Linked DNA regions of Homo sapiens. The protein of the gene in region 2 purifies or fractionates together with the protein of the main gene of each other region. This does not show direct contact. Each region holds a gene or a part of one and is shown on either strand. Other genes may lie near its edges.

Region 1 (6,830 bases), on a different chromosome or scaffold from region 2:
TTAGTCAAATCTGATGGTTTTTTGGTCTCTACTCAGATGGGAGATTTCATATTTTATGTTTATGAGAAGTTTCTTTTTCCCTTTTCTGCCTGTGGCCCTCAATTGGAATTTTTCCAATGATTTTCCCATTCTTAATGATTGTTGGATTTTCTGTGGCTTAAAGAAAAAGAAAATAGAGATTTTCTAAATATGGTGATAAAAATCTTTGTAAACATAATAAGGGCAACCTTTTTGTTTATGAGTCTAAAACTCAACAGATCTGATGTCCCAGTGATTTTCTCTCTCAGATTATAGGTAAATCGCTGGCTGTTTTTAAGAAGCCTATGTAGAGAAGTGGAATATTTAGAAGCTTCTGAAATACTCTTTGACTATCAATAACTTCAATATCTGGCTTAGAATTTTCTCTCCTGAGGGAAGGCTTCTGGGAGTAACGCTTTCTAAACGCAATCTGTGCTGGCCACTAAAAGTTAACGTTTCTCTCAGTGCCCCGTATTTGCTTTTTTTCATCATGGGATAGTGGCTGAATGCATAGACTTCAGTGACAAACAGCCTACATTTAAATCCCAGTATCTACTGTGTGACTATGGGTGAATTACTTAACCTCCCTGTACCTTAGTTTCATCACTTATAAAATGGGAATACAATGGCCAAATATCATCATGCATATTTTAAGGGTGAAAAGAGATAATCCTTTTTACATGTACACAGTACTTGAGTGTACAGCAAAGGCCTATTTTTATTGCTATTGTTATATTTACTATTATGGTTAGCTATATATATTATTTGCATTTCCAACTAAATTGTAAATCTCTTGAAGTCAGGTTCTTACACTGCTACTTAAATATAAGGGCATAAGAAGGGCAACCTTTTTGTTTATGAGTCCAAGACTGCCATTAAAAGTAATGGCAGGCCGGGCGCGGTGGCTCATGCATGCCTGTAATCCCAGGACTTTGGGAGGCTGAGGCGGGCGGATCATGAGGTCAGGAGATCAAGACCATCCTGGCTAACTAACACTGTGAAAACCCCGTCTCTACTGAAAATACAAAAAAATTAGTCGGGCATGATGGCGGGCGCCTGTAGTCCCACGCCAGGCAGGAGAATGGCATGAACTCGGGATGTGGAGCTTGCAGTGAGCCGAGATTGCGCCACTGCACTCCAGCCTGGGCGACAGAGTGAGACCCCGTCTCAAAAAAAAAAAAAAAAAAATTAACATGGAATGCTTAGGGATGTCACTTAAATATGTAAGAATTTTTTATCATGTCTTTAAGCCATCTATAATTGATGTTCAAATGTGAATAATGATTCTTAGATTTTTTCTTCATTAATAATAGTTGAATGTTTTACAAATAGAAAGTTATAGTAATTACTGAATATATGTAACTTATTCCCACAAGGCAAAATTTTGATTTAAAGCATAACTGAAACATAACTGTGTAGTTAAATATGTTGAATGCAAAAGCAATGCTTACAAAGTTTGTTTATTTATTTATTTATTTATTTATTTATTTTGAGACGGAGTCTCACTCTGTCGCCCAGGCTGGAGTGCAGTGGCTCGATCTCAGCTCACTGCAAGCTCCGCCTTCTGTGTTCACACCATTCTTCTGCCTCAGCCTCCCGAGTAGCTGGGACTACAGGTGCCCGCCACCACACCCGGCTAATTTTTTGTATTTTTAGTACAGAGGGGGTTTCACCGTGTTAGCCAGGATGGTCTCCATCTCCTGACCTCGTGATCTGCCCACCTCGGCCTCCTAAAGTGTTGGGATTACAGGCGTGAGCCACAGCGCCCAGCCCAAAATTTATTTTTTAACATCATTTTTTAAAAAGTCTGTGGTGCACTTAAAACAACTATCCCCCAATTCCTAGTAAGGTGTCAGTTTTCTGCAAGTACTTAATGGTATCTGGACTAAGTGTACATTTCAAAACACTCACATTATGAGTTAATGCATTTGCAACAAACTTCTGAGTGAAGTCAGATATTGCCTAGGTTGCAAATAAAAAATGCAAAGGAGTGAGGACTTAAGACCTATTGAGTACCCCTGGAACCCTTAATGGTTTTCTTTGCTTCCTTTTCTCTCTTAATAGACAATCATCCCACCTAGGACCATACTAATCAAACAATACACAAATGTTTCATGTTAAGGCTCAGAATCATAGACTCATATAATCAGGAGATTGGAAGGAAACACAAAAAGTAAGACTTTTCAAGACAACCTCATTCACACTGTTTACTTGAATTATTTACTCTTGTTTTATTATTAATTTTTATGCTGTTCAATTGACTACAATTCAAAACCCAGTGTATTCATACCATGTGCTAAGATATGCTCCTTCCTATATGTGTTCCTCTAAAGAACCATCTGGATCTTGTGGGGGATATTTTCCTTTGTGGTATCAAAGCCAGGAGCTCGTGGTTTTCCTTTATTTTTTAAGGGAACACTATCATGTAGCATCTGGGACCAGAAAGAAATCTTGATGTTATATATTTTACAGATATTTTCTTTTTGGATTTTTTTTCCTCTAAGAGAAAAGCTTTTGTTAATGTGTCATGTAAAAATACATTAACTAGTAACTTGTCAAGAAGTGCTAGATTCCATTCTTGTGCGGGTCCATTTATATATGTTCCTGAACAGCTAATATTTCATTTAGTTTCCAATTAAACTTGCTCAAATACATTTTTGAAGTGCATTGCTTAAAATTTACATTCAAGGCAAGAAAACGAGTTTGTCAGTAAATGTAGTAATTAAGGAAGTCCCAAGTCTGTATTTTTAAGATACTAGAGGTAATTGTAACTAATCACTTTAACTTAAAGAAATAGAATTGGAAATACCCCCCTCCCCCCGCCACCCCCTACCAAAACCATACCTTAGTCACTTTGGAATTATAACCGTCTTTTACGTCTATCAATATAAATGTATTGCATTTGGCATTCAAATTACTTTCAAAGGGATAAATTTCGAATTTTTTTTTTTCATTGTAGCTTCTGATCTTTAAATGTACTGAACAGGAGGATTTGGGGAGCTTGTCTTGTCTGATAGGTGTTAAGTATCTATGACGACAAATTTGAGCTGAAGCAATGTGCAATATGGACTAGTAATATCTTCACAAGACTATTTTGGAAATTCTCACGTTGATGTTATTAATGACGTGGGTTTATTAGCATTTGGGTAATTAAGAAAAAACAGTACTAGAATTTAAAAAAAAGAAAAAAAAAGGTAAGAAGGGCGAAACAGAGTTCTCCACTCCTCTCCCAACCCTCATTCCTTTGGAGGCTCGCGCCCTCTTGGAATAGCAGGTTCCTGCATGTGCCAGAAATCCGGTCCCGGCAAAGCTAGACGCTCTGCAATGACAGGCGTTCCCAGCTAGGGACTCCTGGCTGCTTGGAGCTTGAAAACACCTGGCGTGGTTCTCGAGGGCCCTAGAGGCTCCTGCTACGGACTGGTCGGCTCTGGGGTTGTAGGCAGAAGGCTCTAAGCGGTCGGAAGGGTTTCCTGTGTGTCAGCAACTTCACTTTGCCGAGATAGCTGGCGGAAGAGGGAAGGAGCGCTCGCGGGCCAATCGCCTGCCAGCAGCCACCTTGGAGCGCACCCCTCTCCCTCGCCGCCGACTCCGGTAGCAGCGTGCCGGCAGAGGCTGAACACACTCGGCCTCGGCGGAGACCTGCTCCCCAGAAGACGCCTCCTGCTTCCCACTGCGCCCTGGAGGACGCGGGCTGGCTGCTGGGCGAGCTCGGCGGAGGCACGCCCCTCGCCTCCCCGCGGAGTGCGGACTCGCCCCGGTGCCCAAACTCCGCCCACCCTCTAGGGAGCTCCGCTCTCCCGCCTAACCCCGGCACTCCGGACAGAGCTGGGCCTGGGGAAGGGGTTCCTGAACTACGCGGACGCCGAACGGGACGCGCTGCAGAAGCGCACGAGTCTGCGGCCACGCGCGCTCCGATGGCTGCCAGGAGCTGAGCTCAGGGTGGGCGGAGGAAGCGGTTAGACGCCCCGAAACTGAGCTGCACGTTTCTAAGGTAGGGAGGAGGAAGATGCCCCCAATTAAGTTGATCTTTGAGCCAAGGAGGCTGGGGAGCAGCCTCCCCAAGCTAGAGCCCTGCAGAGCGAGTTTCCCTTGACCTCGCTGCGCCTCTGGCGCGCTCTGCAGCGCGGACCCGCGGCCCCTCGGGAAAGCGCAGTCGGAAAGTTATCCGCGGCGGTTCCCTGCGCGCCCTGTTGTGTAAGCTCGGCGTTGCCAGCGGACGGAGAAGTTGCTGGCTTGCCCGATAGCCCAGTTCGGTGGCGGCCCGGGGCGGATTTCATGGCCCGCGGCGAACGCGGGGCCAGAGCTGGCGTGGGCGAGCCCCTGCGCGCCCCCTCCCGCGGGGATCCAGTTCGCCTGCTCCCTTCCGCTCGCTGGCTTTTCCGATGCTTGCTGCGCCCCTGGCCGCCGCTGCCCTCTCGCCGCCTCCTACCCCTCGGAGCCGCCGCCTAAGTCGAGGAGGAGAGAATGACCGAGGTGCTGTGGCCGGCTGTCCCCAACGGGACGGACGCTGCCTTCCTGGCCGGTCCGGGTTCGTCCTGGGGGAACAGCACGGTCGCCTCCACTGCCGCCGTCTCCTCGTCGTTCAAATGCGCCTTGACCAAGACGGGCTTCCAGTTTTACTACCTGCCGGCTGTCTACATCTTGGTATTCATCATCGGCTTCCTGGGCAACAGCGTGGCCATCTGGATGTTCGTCTTCCACATGAAGCCCTGGAGCGGCATCTCCGTGTACATGTTCAATTTGGCTCTGGCCGACTTCTTGTACGTGCTGACTCTGCCAGCCCTGATCTTCTACTACTTCAATAAAACAGACTGGATCTTCGGGGATGCCATGTGTAAACTGCAGAGGTTCATCTTTCATGTGAACCTCTATGGCAGCATCTTGTTTCTGACATGCATCAGTGCCCACCGGTACAGCGGTGTGGTGTACCCCCTCAAGTCCCTGGGCCGGCTCAAAAAGAAGAATGCGATCTGTATCAGCGTGCTGGTGTGGCTCATTGTGGTGGTGGCGATCTCCCCCATCCTCTTCTACTCAGGTACCGGGGTCCGCAAAAACAAAACCATCACCTGTTACGACACCACCTCAGACGAGTACCTGCGAAGTTATTTCATCTACAGCATGTGCACGACCGTGGCCATGTTCTGTGTCCCCTTGGTGCTGATTCTGGGCTGTTACGGATTAATTGTGAGAGCTTTGATTTACAAAGATCTGGACAACTCTCCTCTGAGGAGAAAATCGATTTACCTGGTAATCATTGTACTGACTGTTTTTGCTGTGTCTTACATCCCTTTCCATGTGATGAAAACGATGAACTTGAGGGCCCGGCTTGATTTTCAGACCCCAGCAATGTGTGCTTTCAATGACAGGGTTTATGCCACGTATCAGGTGACAAGAGGTCTAGCAAGTCTCAACAGTTGTGTGGACCCCATTCTCTATTTCTTGGCGGGAGATACTTTCAGAAGGAGACTCTCCCGAGCCACAAGGAAAGCTTCTAGAAGAAGTGAGGCAAATTTGCAATCCAAGAGTGAAGACATGACCCTCAATATTTTACCTGAGTTCAAGCAGAATGGAGATACAAGCCTGTGAAGGCACAAGAATCTCCAAACACCTCTCTGTTGTAATATGGTAGGATGCTTAACAGAATCAAGTACTTTTCCCCTCTTTAACTTTCTAGTTTAGAAAAAAATCAAACCAAGAAAATAGTGAGTTAAAAAAATAATAGAAGTAGAAATGCCCACATCCACACTTAGCTTGTTTGGGTTTGCTTTCACAGTCTCTCTTCCTTCTGACTAGAAGTATGTATAATAAAACAATACTACCTAGTTAAACATTTACTTTCTCTTTTGCCTTTAAAATGTGCAGGCTTTTCTGTTTAAAGTGTGTGTGCACATGAGTACTGGGGCTGTTTTTGATATTAGTAATTTCTCTAAGAAAACTAGCCCCCTGCAACTTGAGTTTGTGGTTTATCTAGCCTTTATTGTTTTTTTAAAATCCACAGTAGGAATAAAAAATCTATATTCTCAGAAATATCTAGCATGGTATATAACAAAACACTAAACTCATCAGTTCATCCGGCATCAGATCAATGGATCTCTGAGCGGGGTGTTTTTTTCAGTGTCTTATAAGCATAGATGATAGTTGACTGAGTTTCTTTAGGGCATTGAATAGACAAGTAAAGCTAATGAATTTAAAAGCCTGAAAAGTGATTGTTTTCCAGTTATTTCTGGAAAAGGTCTCATTATATATTGGGTGCTAAATGTTTGATGGGGAAAGCCTGCATATATTATCGTACTGGTAAAATGCATTCAAAATAATTAAAGTGCATGTATTTTCCTTGTAAACACCATGAGCTCTCTTAGACATCTTGTGATAAAGAGCATTTACTTGCCCCACTGCTGTGCAATGCCTTAGGACTTTGTTTGTGTTCCAGGACAAGTGTTCACTCACATCTGTAAAAACAATTTTAAGAATTGCAAATAAATTACAGACCAAAGATTGAGTAAAGTCAAATAACTGTTAGTAAGTTGAAGGATATTGGACAGGAGGACAGTATTTCAGAAAAGGAGAGGTTGACAGTCATCCACAAGGCATAGCCTCCAAGTATACTCTCAAATGTATGAAGCAACTGGGGTGGGCAGAAGACATTTTAGAATGAGGGCTTTAGTTTAAATTAAAGTCATGGTGGAGAAGACTCTTGCTTCCTCCAAGTGTTTGAAAACACAAAATGCGATATGAAAAGAAGAAATAGAATTTGTATAGGTTGCATTGATAGAATGGGAAGCTATAATCTTTGAATAAACCTTACATCTCAA
Region 2 (7,022 bases):
GGAGGTAAGGAGCTGGTCGGGGTCCCTGGTGGGGTGGCTGGCTCCCCGTCCCTTGTCCGTGCCGATAGAGCATCTGCTGGGAGCCAGGAGCTGCTGCAGGCACGGGGGGCAGTGGGTGAGGCGTGCAGTCCCAGCCGTCCTGAGCTTAGTGGGAGCCTCGAGCCTTCATCATGCAGTGTATTTGTTTCTGTTGTGATCCAGCTGATCCATTGATCAGTGGGGTTGGGGACGCTTCTGTTCTGCTCATTTATTGCTGTGTAACAAACCACCTCTAAGTGAGGGCTTTAAAACAAGATCGTTCATTTCTTTTGCACATGGGCATTGGGGTACCTGGGCGCAGCTACGCACTTCTCACCTGGGGCCTCATCAGTCAGATGGGGCCAGGTTGGGTTAGCCCCAAGGCTTCTCGCATTGGCCTAAGAGGCCTCAGACAATGAGGGCTTTGGCGGCTGGGGCTCCCCAGCCGCACCCTTCACCTCGTGGCCTCCAGGTAGCCTGTCCACCTGCCAAGAACACACACACCCAGCCCCACAGGTCACCCCTCACCTGCTGCTGCTCCTCTCTCTCCCTGCACGCTCCAAAGTCCCCAGAAGCCTGAGACTCCCAGAGCAACTGTCCCAAAGTCCCCAGAAGCCTGAGACTCCCAGAGCAACTGTCCCAAGGGAACCAAGGCAGAAGCCATGTCACTTTTTAACTTAGCCTCCCTTGGAAGGCAGGCGGCATCACTTCTGCCACATCCTCCTGCTGGCAGTGAGTCACCGCGGCCGGCCCTCAGTCAAAGCCGTGGGAGCTAGACTTCACCCCTCAGTGGGAAGAGCATCGAAGAGTTGGCAGGCGCAGCAAAGCCATGGGAGCTCCCGTGGAAATGAGAGTTCGGGCAGATGTGAGCCCTGGGGAAGAGGCAGCGGGAAGGTGGGAGCTGAGCAGGCTGTGGGGACATCCCGGGCGGAGGCTTGCTGGAGGCCAGGGTGGCTGGAACACAGGGAGCCAAGGGGCAAGAGGTCTGGGATGTGGCTGGATGGGCATGAAGAGCCTTCTGGGTACCTAGAGGTGCTGGGAAGGAGTTTGGATTTAATCTTGGCTGTCCTGTGACAGGGATTCGGAGGCCATGGGGGAGGGCTGAGCAGGGAGACAGGAGACAGGCAAGAGGCGCTGTGAGAAGCGTGGGCTGAGTGACCTGCTCCTTGGTGAGTGAGAAGTTCTAGAACTGAGCACCATGGCATGCACCTGTAGTTCCAGCAACTTGGGATGCTGAGGTAGGAGGATCACTTGAGCCCAGGAGGTTGAAACTAGCCTGGGCAACATAGCAAGACCTCATCTCAAAAAAAAAAAAAATCGTCATTGGAAAGGGAATGTCAGAGGCAGGGCTGTCAGGCGTGTTGACCCCCAGGCCGAAGAGCCACATGTGCAGTCATGAGGCCCTCTAGGAAGCTGTGTGGTAGATGGGCCCAGGGCTCTGAGCCATTCCGTGAGTTTGAGCACCTACTTCATGACAGCCACTGGGGAAGGAACTGGGGAGAGAGAGGTGTCTTAACTTCTGGCCTTTCCACCAGTGCTCAGGGGCCTGCAAACATCCCCCGGGGGCCTGCCCCATGTCCAGACACCGCACGGTAAGCAGATGCCTGGGAGACTCCCATGTCCATTGACATTTGAACCTGGAGAACCTCAGTGCGTGGTCACTGGTGCTACCATTGTACAAGCAGGAAGTTGGGCAGGTGATTTGCCCAGGCTTACACAGCCGGGGCTGCAGAAAGGGGATAGTGGGGTTGCTGGTTTTCAAAACAAGGCCCTTGGGGTGCACAGAGTGTGCTGAGCTAGGGTGGCAGGCCGGGTCCGTAATGCACCCCTGCGGTTCTGGACAGATCCTGTGCTTGATGCTGGAATACAACATCATCGACAACAACGACACCCAACTGCAGATCATCTCAACCCTGGAGAGCACAGACGTGGGGAAGCGCATGTACGAGCAGCTGTGTGACCGGCAGCGGGAGCTGAAGGAGCTGGTGAGTCCCCGGCTGCTCCGGACCACTCCCCTGCCCAGCAGGCCAGGGGGGGCCAGGGCGGGATGCGGGGCAGCTAGTACTTGGACCTGAGTGGACCTCAATCTCGTTGAATTCTCCTCCAAACCCCAGAAATTGGTATTACCACCTGCCACTTTTCAGGTAATCAAAGAGAAGCAAAGCAATCCCCAGAGTCACACAGCTCATTGGGGCCTGGCCAGGACATTGCCCACCCTCCCTCCTCCATGTCCCTTAGACCCTTCCATTTCAGTACATGGGGGACCCAACTTCCAAATGCCAGCACCCACACCTCTTTGCTGAAGGACTTTGTATGTCCACATGCATATACTCACACATGTGTACACAGAAGGACGGAAGGGGCAGGAAATTCATGCCTTCTGATCTCCTGGAGCAGCCCTCAACCAGTCCCTTCTGGGGAGAGTGTGTAGAAATACCCCAGCTCCCTCACCCCTTCAGTGAGATATGTTTGAGACATGGCTTCTCCACCATTTCTTAGAGTCCCCCGGTGGGATTTGGTGCCAGTACCCACCCAGTGATAGCTGGATTGATAACACCCCTTCCATTATAGGTAGCCACAGTGTCACTTCCCCACTCTCCCACTGGTGTTTCTTGGGATCACCCTCCAGTAAACCACCTGTGCTCAAACCTCATCTCCGGGTTTGCCCCTGAGACCAAGACCACCGTGTTGCCTTGTACCACCAAGAAAATAACGATGGCTCCATGAGTGTTGTTAACAGAGGTGGAAGTCTAGAATGGAAACTTGGGGAAAAGAATGGTTGTAACCAGCCTGGTTTCTGTTGCAGCAAAGGAAAGGCGGGCCCACCAGGCTAACACTGCCCTCCAAGTCCACAGTGAGTTGGTTTGGTTCTCTTTGGGGCTGGATGGAGAAGGTGGGTTGGTCCTCTCTGTTGGGGAACGGCAGGTGGTGTCTGCTGCTGAGATGGGAGGTGATGGAGGGCGGGGCACAAGGACCCCCTAGTACTTAACACGCCAGCTCTTCCAGGAGGTAGCTGGGTTACAGGAAGAGAAATGAAAACCAAAAAGGAAGTTAAAATATGATACAGATTGTTGGTGATAATAGTGTTGATATCTAGTTATTAATAGTACTTGGAATAATAGCAGATATACCTTGAGCATTTGTGTGTCAGATGCTCTTCTATTAGTTTGTTTTATCCTCACAGCAACCCTTGGAAGCTTGTGTATCTTACCATTCGCATTTCACAAGGTCTTTAAGGGTCTTATTTCCTTCTATTCTGATGCCCCCATTATATTTGACACATGGCTTCTACTTCCTGGACCAAAAGGGCTGCTCAGGCTCCAGACCTCTTGTCTCCATTCCAGCCAGCAGGAAGGAGAACGTGCCCCTTCCTCTTAAGAAACTTCCTGGAAGTTCTACTTGACATGTCTACTTACATCCCATTTTCCAGATTTAGTGTGTGGGGCCACACACTAAATCAGCCTTCATTCCGGGCAGCCACAGGGCCGCTGACACTCAAGGATGGAGGGGAGTGTGGAGGTTGTCTTAGGAACCTCCCAGTCCGGTGCTCAGGCATGCGCTGGTGTCTTCAGGCATTAGAGTTGAGTGTGGCCTCAGTGTTGGCATGAGCTGCTGCCCAGGAGTGAGGCAGCCAGTCACACACCCTGATGCACAGACACAGACACACAGAGACACACCAACACACACACACACAAATATACACAGACGTGCACAGACACACACATGTACAGACACATGCATACACAAACGTGCACACAGACACACACAGATATACACACATACAGGCACACACACACAGACACACACACACACAGACGCCTGTGGGAGGATCGTGGCCTTGGAACACCCCGCTGGTGCCTCAGGGTGTGAGTCACAGCACTGGAGGCTTTCTCCTCCGCCTGGCAGCTGTCGTCCATGGGATGCGTGGCAGCCCCTCCCTCTCTGGCCACCCCCTTGGCCCATCCCACCGAGCTGTGCCCCCATCTCAGCTCCTGGGATTTACCGCCCCCCAGGAACAGCTCTCTGTAGGGCGAGGGGAGAGGAGGAGGATAGGGGATAGGAGGGCTCAGGGTCTCGGGAACTCCCAGCAGCACCCTCAGGCCTCTCCCCCGTCTGCCCGCAGGACGCTGACTTGGCTCGTTTGCTGAGCTCCGGCTCCTTCGGAAACCTGGAGAACCTCAGTTTGGCCTTCACCAATGTAACCAGTGCCTGCGCCGAGCACCTCATCAAACTGCCTTCGCTCAAGCAGCTGAACCTGTGGTCCACTCAGGTACGTCCTCCCGCCCTGCTGCAGTCCCCCACACCCTCCTCCTTCACCTCTGCACTCTCCTCCCTATTCCCCCGTACCATCTTCCTTTCCCCTCAGCCTCCTCCCTGCCCCCTCCCCCTCCTTCCTGCCCCCTCCCCCTCCTCCCTGCCCCCCTTACTCTCCTCCCTGCCCCTTCACCCTCCTCCCTGCTCCCCTCACCCTCCTCCCTGCCCCCTCACCCTCCTCCCTGTCCCCCTTACTCTCCTCCCTGCCCCCTCACCCTCCTCCCTGCCCCCCTTACTCTCCTCCCTGCCCCTTCACCCTCCTCCCTGCTCCCCTCACCCTCTTCCCTGCCCCCTCCCCCTCCTCCCTGCCCCCTCCCCCTCCCCTACCCACTTACCCTCCTCCCTGCCCCCTCACCCTCCTCCCTGCCCCCTCACCCTCCTCTCTTTCCCCTCACCCTCCTCCCTGCCCACTCACCCTCCTCCCTGCCCCCTCACCCCCCCACCCACTCACCCTCCTCCCTGCCCCCTCACCCTCCTCCCTGTCCCCCTTACTCTCCTCCCTGTCCCCTCACCCTCCTCCCTAACTCGTTCACCCTCCTCCCTACCCCTTCATCCTCCTCCCTGCCCCCGTCACCCTCCTCCCTGCCCCCTCACCCTCCTCCCTGCCCCTCACCCGCTTCCCTGCCTACACCCCAGGCATTGCTTACCACACGACCCTTCCCTCAAGCTCAGCACCCACTCCCTGAGGCTAGAGGAGGTTGAGGACCTCATGAAGCCCTGCAGCCCATTTCCCATTTGGAAATAATGTGCCCAGTTCCGAGTCCTGAGGTTCTGAGAGGTAGAGCTGAGACGTGAGCCAGGCTTCGCTGGCCTGCGGGGGGCTGCGCAGGAGGCTTCTGGGTCTTTTTGTTATAGTAACACCAGTGGCTGCTGAGTCCCAGCTCAGTGTGAACTGCACTGCTCAGTACTCTGCACAGGGCAGATGAAGGGGCCTTCACTGCACACCTGTGAAGTGCAGGTTCTACCCTCACCCTAATTTTCCAGAGGAGAAACTGGGGACAGTCCCTGCAGCCTGCCCCCGGCCCAGCCCTGTCCTTCCACTGTCCACCCAGCAGGAGAAAGCCACCTAGGCAGCATCTCGAAGCTAGGGAGAGACAAGTTCAAAGCCCTCCTTCATGGAGGCAAAACTGACTCCAAGGGGGCCCTGGCCTGGCTCCACTCCCAACAGCAGAAGCTGGATTCTAACCCGGTTCAGAGAGGCGTGGGATTGTTTAGGGGACGTGAACGCAGCCCAGACCCCAGGGCTTGGTGGGCCATGGGCCTCAGAGCCAGGCTCTGTCCCCATCCCTTTCCTCCACCTCTGCCCCAGCCTCAGAGTCACTTCCCCAGGAGTGGCCGGGAGAGGGCTGAGAGTTTCTGTGCTCTACAGTTTGGAGACGCTGGCCTTCGGCTCCTGTCGGAACACCTCACCATGCTCCAGGTGCTGAACCTGTGCGAGACCCCGGTCACAGACGCTGGCCTGCTGGCCCTGAGCTGTGAGTGCCTCCGGGGCAGCTGGGGGGTGAGGGGCCGCTTGATTCATTCCTTCCTTGCTTCAGCCAAACTGGCCAAGCACTGACTTTGCACCATGCACAGATAGAGAAATTCGTTCATTCACAAACGTGTTCACTGCACACCTGCTGTGGACCAGGCACCATTCCATGTGCCAGGAACAACACAGGGAAAAATATCCCTAACCTCAGAGAGCTTATATTCTAGAGGCAATAGAAAAAATGAGTAAGGCCAGCCCATAGCCTCTTGACACTCACAGTCCACTGAGGGGTCGAGTTCAAGGACGGGGCTGTAGTACATTGCCACTGTGGTCCCCTGACCAGTGGTGGCAGCGTCTTCTGGGGGCTGGTCAGAAATGTACATTCCCAAGCCCACTCCAGACCTCCTGACTCAGACACCGTACGGTAAGCAGATGCCTGGGAGGCTCCCGTGCCCGTTGACATTTGAGAAGCCCTGTCATAATAGAAGGAGGCACAGAATTCTCAAGGAACCTAGAAAGGCCAGTTCCTGTGTGCCAAACCCCAGGTGACTGAACTAGCCTCAGGGATATTGAGCCCGGGATTCTGTATTTGACCAGCTTTCCCTTTTCCAGGCCCACTGCTTTAGACGGGAAGACCCGTGGCTCAGTGGGAAGAGTCAGAAAAGGCTTCCCGGGGAGGTGCTGTTGAGTCTGGGTGTGAAGACAGATTTGTGGGAGTTGGCCAAGGGGGAGGCACCCTGAGCAGGGGCCATGACTCCTACCGGGCCGCTGGCAAATGCTGGGTGGCTTGGGAGGAGGTGGGAGCAGGTGACTGGGTCAGTGGAGGCAGAGCGGCAGCGCTCGGCCAGTTTGGCTGCAAATGCAGATGCGCTGCTTCCACTGGAGTCCCCCGGGGGGGCGCGGTCCTCATCAACAGCACAGATTCCTGGTCCCTGCTGCGGCCCTGCTCAGCGTCTCTGGGAGTGGGTGGAGGGGTCTGCCCCCCGTGCGACTCCAACACAAACCAGAGGTTGAGGCTTGCTTTCAAGAAGCAGCACCGAGTCAATGACGACGGGGGGACCATCCGGGGTTCCCTTAGTGGGGAGGCCTCGGGCCTGATCTGGGGTGTGGCAGGCAAGCTCTGGGGACATCAGGTCCAGGCAGTGGGGGCACACGACAGAGGGACCAGAAGGGAGGGAGGCTCAGAGGGTGGGAAGAAAACGAAGGCTCTGTTCAGACC

Evidence for each region. The genes of interacting proteins can lie anywhere in the genome.
Region 1: the proteins of CMIP (region 2) and P2RY1 purify together in Homo sapiens (affinity purification with mass spectrometry; 2 studies listed by BioGRID and IntAct, with this or other methods). This does not show direct contact.

What each region holds. Positions count from the first base shown.
Region 1 is NC_000003.12:152,831,301-152,838,130, forward strand, and holds the start of P2RY1 (P2Y purinoceptor 1), read left to right. Parts: upstream 1-3,830; 5' UTR 3,831-4,482; coding exon 4,483-5,604; 3' UTR 5,605-6,830. UniProt on the Homo sapiens protein: Receptor for extracellular adenine nucleotides such as ADP. In platelets, binding to ADP leads to mobilization of intracellular calcium ions via activation of phospholipase C, a change in platelet shape, and ultimately platelet aggregation.
Region 2 is NC_000016.10:81,699,798-81,706,819, forward strand, and holds part of CMIP (C-Maf-inducing protein), read left to right. Parts: coding exon 1-4; intron 5-1,862; coding exon 1,863-2,003; intron 2,004-2,824; coding exon 2,825-2,872; intron 2,873-4,141; coding exon 4,142-4,288; intron 4,289-5,701; coding exon 5,702-5,807; intron 5,808-7,022. UniProt on the Homo sapiens protein: Plays a role in T-cell signaling pathway. Isoform 2 may play a role in T-helper 2 (Th2) signaling pathway and seems to represent the first proximal signaling protein that links T-cell receptor-mediated signal to the activation of c-Maf Th2 specific factor.